Linked DNA regions of Homo sapiens: all the other regions are linked to region 3. Evidence: fine-mapped expression QTL. A gene starts in region 3. Each other region holds a variant in brackets. All regions are shown on one strand. Distances are between the middles of the regions.

The links. PIP is the estimated chance that this variant, and not a neighbour inherited with it, causes the effect.
Region 1: its variant is the best candidate, but not a certain one, in a credible set for the expression of GPHN in whole blood (INTERVAL, PIP 0.74).
Region 2: its variant is the best candidate, but not a certain one, in a credible set for the expression of GPHN in prefrontal cortex (ROSMAP, PIP 0.61).

What each region holds. Positions count from the first base shown.
Region 1 is chr14:67,095,051-67,097,814 of GRCh38, forward strand. The region is part of intron 12 of GPHN (gephyrin); the gene reads left to right. All of the region lies in intron 4 of LOC105370538 (a long non-coding RNA gene), which reads right to left. Among named protein-coding and RNA genes, the nearest start is that of GARIN2, 93 kb to the right of the region's middle. The variant C/CTT (reference allele first, on the strand shown) is at 1,566.
Region 2 is chr14:66,182,491-66,185,254 of GRCh38, forward strand. No RefSeq gene overlaps it. Among named protein-coding and RNA genes, the nearest start is that of LINC02290, 72 kb to the left of the region's middle. The variant G/A (reference allele first, on the strand shown) is at 1,511.
Region 3 is chr14:66,506,644-66,509,407 of GRCh38, forward strand. It overlaps GPHN (gephyrin), which reads left to right and starts at 1,504. Exons shown (of 23, transcript NM_020806.5): 1 at 1,504-1,948. The coding sequence starts at 1,885. RefSeq lists silencers at 1,549-1,738, 2,089-2,238 and enhancers at 2,329-2,488, 2,739-2,764.

The sequences.
Region 1 (2,764 bases), 590 kb after region 3:
ATTTCTCAGAATATATCCCCATTGTTAAGTGACTCATGACTGTATCAGGAAGTTAGATAGATTGATACTTATTTTTCTGTCTTCATAAGACAAACCTTGGTGTTAATGTAAAATTTGGACTCCTGTAGTTCACTAATTTTTTTATTCCTTAAATTTTCTCTTAGTCTGAATTTGTCTATATTCAGTTTGATCTTATAGTGCTCTGCTCCTCAAAAAGGGTAATCCATGGACCAGCAGCCTCAGCATCAGCTTGTTAGAATTTAGAATCTCACTGTTGGTGGGACTGTAAACTAGTTCAACCACTGTGGAAGTCAGTGTGGCGATTCCTCAGGGATCTAGAACTAGAAATACCATTTGGCCCAGCCATCCCATTACTGGGTATATACCCAAAGGACTATAAATCATGCTGCTATAAAGACACATGCACACGTATGTTTATTGTGGCACTATTCACAATAGCAAAGACTTGGAACCAAGCCAAATGTCCAACAATGATAGACTGGATTAAGAAAATGTGGCACATATACACCATGGAATACTATGCAGCCATAAAAAACGATGAGTTCATGTCCTTTGTAGGGACATGGATGAAATTGGAAATCATCATTCTCAGTAAACTATCGCAAGGACAAAAAACCAAACACCGCATGTTCTCACTCATAGATGGGAATTGAACAGTGAGAACCCATGGACACAGGAAGGGGAACATCACACTCTGGGGACTGTTGTGGGGTGGGGGGAGCAGGGAGGGATAGCATTAGGAGATATACCTAATGCTAAATGACAAGTTAATGGGTGCAGCACACCAGCATGGCACATGTATACATATGTAACTAACCGGCACATTGTGCACATGTACCCTAAAACTTAAAGTATAATAATAATAAAAAAACAAAAAAAAAGAAAAGAAAAAGGCAAAAAAAAAAAAAAAAAAAAGAATTTAGAATCTCAGACCTTGTCCCAGCCCTACTAAATTAGAATCTGTATATTCACAAGATCTCGAGATGATTTGCATGCACATTAACTGTTGAGAAATAAGAGAAATAAGAAAAATGACTCCTCTCTTGGTACCAAGAAACTTCTATGTAGTTGTTTGACTGATTCTTCCTTAGCTAGCAATATAGAGACACATTTACCAACTGGAAAGGTTCAGAGTAAGGTTGAGAACATAGTGCAAGTGAGCACATATTCTCTCCACAATTGGTATACTTTCCCTGATAACAAAGACCTTGCTCCTTAGAATCGCTTCAGAGTACTTTCACATATGGACCTCCCTGGAACTCCATACTAGGCTTGCCCCAGATGACCTCCCCAGATGACCTCCAGCTACTCATTATTCAGTTTATTTAGAGGATTATGCAGAATATTGATATGAGCATTTTGAGTTTATGTGCATGTGTGGGGGAACAGGAGAAAAGAGAAATACTTCCCACCAAAAACTTTTTGAGAATGCCAACTTCATTTCTTTATTCTTTTAACAAATATTTATTATCAGCGATGACTTAGGCACTATGCTAGACAGAATAATGACATAATCTAAGTTATACAGAATTAATCAAAGCAGT[C/CTT]TTTTTTTTTTTTTTTTTGAGACAGGATCTCGCTATGTTGCTCTGGCTGGAGTGTAGTGGTACAATCCCAGCTCACTAAAACCTCCACTCCCCACCCCCCACCCGGTTCTCAAGCCATCTTTGTGCCTCAGCCTCCCAAGTAGCTAGACTACAGGCACACACCACCACACCTGGCTATTTTTTGTATTTTTGTAGAGGTGGGGTTTTGCCATGTTGCCCAGCTTTGTCTCAAACTCCTGAGCTGAAGTGATTTGCCCAGCCAAAGCAGTCTTTCTAAACATTCTTAAGATGTTGACTCAAATTTTGAAGGAAACAATATATATGGATCAGCAAAAAGTATATATAACAAATATAAAACTTTGTGTTAGAAAATATTACTTATTTGGTCATTCGTGCATGAATCTTCTAAGAACGTTTTTGTAGCCACATTCATTCGTCTGCCAACCATTTTTGAATACTTAACATATTGAACATTTATTTAACACCTATTGTACAGCAAGTGCCAGGGATTAGCAAATACTGTAAATATATTTAGAAGCCATAATTGATTTCAGGCTACACTGGGGAAACAAAAGAGGATGCACGCAACTCTTGAGGGGAGAGGAGTCAGATATGACTTCACAGAGAAGATGACACTTGAGCTGAGTCTTAACAGCTAAAAAATCTTTAATCAGAAGGCAAGAATAAGAAAAGGACGCTTTAAGTAGTGGAAGTAGCACATGTCACGGAGCCAACATATGAGTTATCTTGGTATTCTCAGGGATAGTACTAGCAGTTGATAATAGCTAGAGTATAAGATATAAGGAAGACATGAACCAAGGCCTTTGCACATATGTTCTCTTTGCACACAATGATGGAGCACTTCCACTTCATGTCTATCTTTTCCTCTCTCTCCCTCTCCTTCTTTCCCTCCCTATTTCCCTCCCTTTGTCTCTCCCCACCTACATACCTGCACACACACACCCCTACTTAGCTCTTACTCATTCTTCATATTCAAATCAGAAATCCTTTTATCATGCTTTTCATGACTCTCCAGTGTAGCTCAGGTACTTTAATTATATACTCTCATAAAATCATGTTTCTTTGCTTTGGAGTGGTTTTCTTAATTTGTATTTATATATTCATTAATGTGATTATTTGATTAATATCTGCCTCTCCTGATGCATCAGTGGCTTTAAGAGTTTTATTTTAACCACACC
Region 2 (2,764 bases), 320 kb before region 3:
TTTCATGTATGTTAAAGATATCTGCTTCTGGCTTTTGGAATATATTTGCCAGCAAAGGCAAGTTTAATTAGGGTTAGAGGAAAGGTCCCTACTATCTCTTGCAAACATCCTCAGCCTGAAATGAGTAAAGGCAAGAGTGGGAAACTTTACCCAATCAAGCCCTGCAGGTGATTCTGCTGTAGGGAGCAGTGATCCAGGTGAATCTCTTTACCATCAGAGTTCAACAGCACACACCATTCAAAGCCTGGGTAGCCTCTTCCTTTCTGGTGAAAAGAGCTCCAGCCACATACCAGGCACTGTGATGGGCTCCAAGGTGCAAAAATAAGTAAGATTCTCTTTTGCTTTTGCCTTCACTGAACTAGTGACAAACAGACACATCCAAACTAAGTCCTAACATGATGGGATTAGAACTATGACAGGGGCATTACAAAGTGCTATGGAAATACAAAGGGAGGCTAAGTTAGTTCTAATGGGAGGAGTAGGGCCAGGCAGGCTAGCAGGAAAAGCCTATCATGAACTCTTTATTGAATTAACATGTTCAGTAATTTTAAATTAAGAGGTAGGATTTGAGCTGATAACCAAGAATTCTCCTGCTCAAGAAGGAAATGGCACCCCTAGCAGAAAGAAAACTTGAGCAAAAGACAACTAACATTTAAGATCGTGCTTCCCAAATTAGACATCTTATGCTCAGGAAGCCACTGAGTGGGTCAAGGCACACTCAAAGCCACAGAAAAAGGATGGTGCATCTTTCAGGGATGTTAATTTTGCTTAACTATTTGGGTAAAATAAGCTATATAAAAAGTAATTGAGGGTATTTTTAAAATTAAAATAGAATGAATGTTATAAAATAGAAGCCAAAATTGACTTGAACTTTTTTTTTAATTTTTATTTTTTTTAGACAGGGTCTAATTCTGTCACCCAGGCTGCAGTGCAGTGAATAGCACATCAAATTTCACTGTAACCTCAAGCTCCTGGGCTCAAGCAATCCTTCTGCCTCAACTTGCTGGTAGCTGGGACTACAAGCTTATGCCACTATGCCTGGCTATTTTCTTTATATGTGTGTGTGTGTGTGTGTTTTTGAGACGGAGTCTCACTCTGTCACCCAGGCTGGAGTGCAGTGGCATGATCTCAGATCACTGCAAGCTCCGCCTCCTGGATTCACGCCATTCTTCTGCCTCAGCCTCCCGAGTAGCTGGGACTACAGGTGCCCGCCACTACACCCGGCTAATTTTGTGTGTGTGTGTGGTTTTTTTTAAAATACTTTAAGTTTTAGGGTACATGTGCACAATGTGCAGGTTTGTTACATATGTCTACATGTGCCATGTTGGTGTGCTGCACCCATTAACTCATCGTTTACATTAGGTATGTCACCTAATGCTATCCCTCCCTCCTCCCCCCACCCCACAACAGGCCCCAGTGTGTGATGTTCCCTTTCCTGTGTCCAAGTGTTCTCATTGTTCAATTCCCACCTATGAGTGAGAACATCCGGTGTTTGGTTTTTTGTCCTTGC[G/A]ATAGTTTGCTGAGAATGATGGTTTCCAGCTTTATCCATGTCCCTACAAAGGACATGAACTCATCATTTTTTATGGCTGCATAGTATTCCTTGGTGTATATGTGCCACATTTTCTTAATCCAGTCTATCATTGTTGGACATTTGGGTTGGTTCCAAGTCTTTGCTGTTGTGAATAGTGCTGCAATAAACATACGTGTGCATGTGTCTTTATAGCAGCATGATTTATAATCCTTTGGGTATATACCCAGTAATGGGATGGCTGGGTCAAATGGTATTTCTAGTTCTAGATCCCTGAGGAATCGCCACACTGACTTCCACAATGGTTGAACTAGTTTACAGTCCCACCAACAGTGTAAAAGTGTTCCTATTTCTCCACATCCTCTCCAGCACCTGCTGTTTCCTGACTTTTTAATGATCGCCATTCTAACTGGTGTGAGATGGTATCTCATTGTGGTTTTGATTTGCATTTCTCTAATGGCCAGTGATGATGAGCATTTTTTCATGTGTTTGTTGGCTGCATAAATGTCTTCTTTTGAGAAGTGTCTGTTCATATCCTTTGCTCACTTGTTGATGGTGTTGTTTGTTTTTTTCTTGTAAATTTGTTTGAGTTATTTGTAGATTCTGGATATTAGCCCTTTGTCAGATGAGTAGATTGCAAAAATTTTCTCCCATTCTGTAGGTTGCCTGTTCACTCTGATGGTAGTTTCTTTTGCTGTGCAGAAGCTCTTTAGTTTAATTAGATCCCATTTGTCAATTTTGGCTTTTGTTGCCATTGCTTTTGGTGTTTTAGACATGAAGTCCTTGCCCATGCCTATGTCCTGAATGGTATTGTCTAGCTTTTCTTCTAGGGTTTTTATGGTTTTAGGTCTAACATGTAAGTCTTTAATCCATCTTGAATTAATTTTTGTATAAGGTGTAAGGAAGGGATCCAGATTCAGCTTTCTACATATGGCTAGTCAGTTTTCCCAGCACCATTTATTAAATAGGGAATCCTTTCCCCATTTCTTGTTTTTGTCAGATTTGTCCAAGATCAGATGGTTGTAGATGTGTGGTATTATTTCTGAGGGCTCTGTTCTATTCCATTGGTCTATATCTCTGTTTTGGTACAAGTACCATGCTGTTTTGGTTACTGTAGCCTTGTAGTATAGTTTGAGGTCAGGTAGTGTGATGCCTCCAGCTTTGTTCTTTTGGCTTAGGATTGACTTGGCAATGCGAGCTCTTCTGTGGTTCCACATGAACTTTAAAGTAGTTTTT
Region 3 (2,764 bases):
GTGAATCTTCAGAGGATGGGTAATTTCATGTTCCAACGGAACAATAAAAAACTCATAATCGGCCAGGCACGGTGGCTCACACCTGTAATCCCAGCACTTTGGGAGGCCAAGGCGGGCGGGTCACGAGGTCAAGATCTTGATCGAGACTATCCTGGCCAACATGGTGAAACCCCGTCTCTACTAATAATACAAAAATTAGCTGGGTGTCGTGGCACGCGCCTGTAGTTCCAGCTACTCGGGAGGCTGACGCAGGAGAATCGCTTGAACCTGGGAGGCAGAGGTTGCAAGTGAGCCGAGATCGCGCCACTGCACTGGAGCCTGGCGACAGAGCGAGACTCCGGATCAAAAAAAACCAAAACCAAAACCAAAAAAAAACCTATCAAAGTGACTTTGAAATTTGTGTATAAACACTGATATACATCTTTTAATACTTTGCTTTTCACTTTTATGCCTCCAGGTTACTACAGCTAAGAAGAGAAAACATATACATATGAGTGTGTGTACACACACACACACGCATATAACTTTTTAAAATTCAGAAGTTGAAAGGTCCAGAACGATAGTAAGAAACTAACGTAGAATAGCCACAGGTGATTAATAACACGTTTCATGAAAGGCACATGGAAATAAATGGCAACAAAAGCTACTTTCATGGTAATCTCACATCCCACGAATACTGAAATGAAAATCGCCGCGGCAATGGACTGTGGTTCAGGTGGAACACGTTCTCGTTCGCTAAGGAGATTGATGCTTTTCATCTAAAAGCAGCGCTCATGGCGAAGAGGCTTAAGGCCACAAAACCGTGGGACAGCAGGAGGAAGAGAAGCCAGGTATCTCCACTCCAGCTGCCCTGCCTCAGACTCCTCAGTTTCGCACGTGAGGATCGTCTTGCAGGCACTGACTGGAGATGGAATCCTAAAGCATAGGTGAAGCGGAAATCCTCCTTCAGGGAGAGCCCACTGAGGAAGCCAGCGGCTAGCACGAGGCAGGACAGGATACCTCCCTCTTCGCCCACGGCGGCCTCTCTGTCATAGTAGCCACCGTTCTGCCACTCATGCAGCTTTCTAAGACACCTCTCGGTTCCCCAGCGCTTTCAGTGGGGCGGCCGGCCATTCCCGAGGGTTGCAAGAGGAGGCCCGGGGTGCTGAGCCAGCCTCGCTGCCCCCGCGTAGAAAGCCGGCCCGCCGGCGAGAGCCAGCCTAAGGCGCGGACAACCAACGAGGTGTCAGGCTCGGCAGGGGATTGCTTCTGTCTGGGGCCCGGCCGAGGTTGCGTTCGTGCCTCGCGCGCACACGCTCCGCGTTCACTCAGCCAATCCGGTGCTACTCGCGCGCCCAGGAGCGATCCGCGGTCCTACTCAGGCTGGGCCGGCTCCTTCCCGCTCCCAATACTCAGCACCCGAGCTCTCACTCCTCCCCTCACTCTCCACGAGTTCCACGCCTAGGGGTGTAGCTCCGCCCTTGTCCCCGAGTCCGCCCCCGCAACCTCCAGAGCGTGTGCTATCCTTTCCTCTCAGTCCTGCCATCTAGCTGCCTTGGGTCTCGCGCTCCGCAGAGCGTTCCGACACTCTCCGGCCTCGTTCTGCCGCCTCCGCGCGCTCTCCCCGTGCGGCCACCGCGCCCCCCAAGCTTGCCTCCTTCTTGCCGGACTTGGGGCCGCGCGCCCTGACTCCTTCCCCTCCCGCGGACCCGCGCACTCCCGGCGCGGCCTCTCCCCCACGCAGGCCACCGTGCACTCTGTGGCCTCCCCCTCCTTCCCCGCTCTCCTCGCGCTTCTCTGGCTCCCTAGCTGTCGCGCTCTCCTCGGCGAGCGCGCTCCCGGCCCGCGCGCTCCGGGCTCCGGTTTCTCCCGGCTCCTGTCAGTGCGGTGACTGCGCTGGGAAACATGGCGACCGAGGGAATGATCCTTACTAACCACGACCATCAAATCCGTGTCGGAGTCCTTACAGGTAACCGGGGGAGGAGGTCTGGGACCTATGAGGCTGCTGTCCCTGCATTGCCTTAGGCTTTTCGCCTGTGGTGGCCCTTCTCTGCGGCCTCGGGAGGAGGGAAGGCTGAAGAAGGGAACCGCGGGGGTGCATTTTACAACCGCTGAGAACCGCCGGAGATTGGGGGTGTTCCCGCGGGTCCCCTCCCCCAGGCCCCAGGAGCCGGGGTCGACCCCGTGGGATGTTAGGCCCCAGCGCCTTCGGAAGCAAAGTCCTGGGCCCCCGGGGACCGAGGGGCCGGTGCGGAGGGCGCTGCGGGGCTCCGCGCTGTCGGTGCAGGCGGCGGGATCCCGGCTCCGCAGTCTGAAGCATGCCGCTCTCGGCTGGCCTGGGCGCATCCTCCGCTAGTGCTCTTCAGAGAGAGGGGGGAATCCCATCTCCACCCCCTTCCTCTCCTTCCCTTCCCCCCACCTGGGCGGCCCCACGCCAGTATCTGTGCTTGCCTGGACGAGACTCAGGTGTTAATCAGATGAAACTGCTCCTCCTCGGGTTGTCCCTCGCGGGCCGGGCGTCCCCTCAGCCACCCATGGGGCACCCTTCGCCTCCCTCGGGGGATGGGGGATCGGCTTGCGTCCGGACCTCGGAAAGTGTCTGCCTTCTGCCTTTCCGCGCAAAAGGCCCTCTGTCTGCCTCGTCGTTTCCTTAGCGAGGACGGGCTGCAGCCTGCTGCCGGGGATCCAGCTTTTTACTTGAGAGGGCAGGATTCCCCTACTCGGGCTCCTCTCCCCCTCCTTTCTGGGAACCCCCACCCCGGTAGAGCGTCCCGAGGCTGGTGAG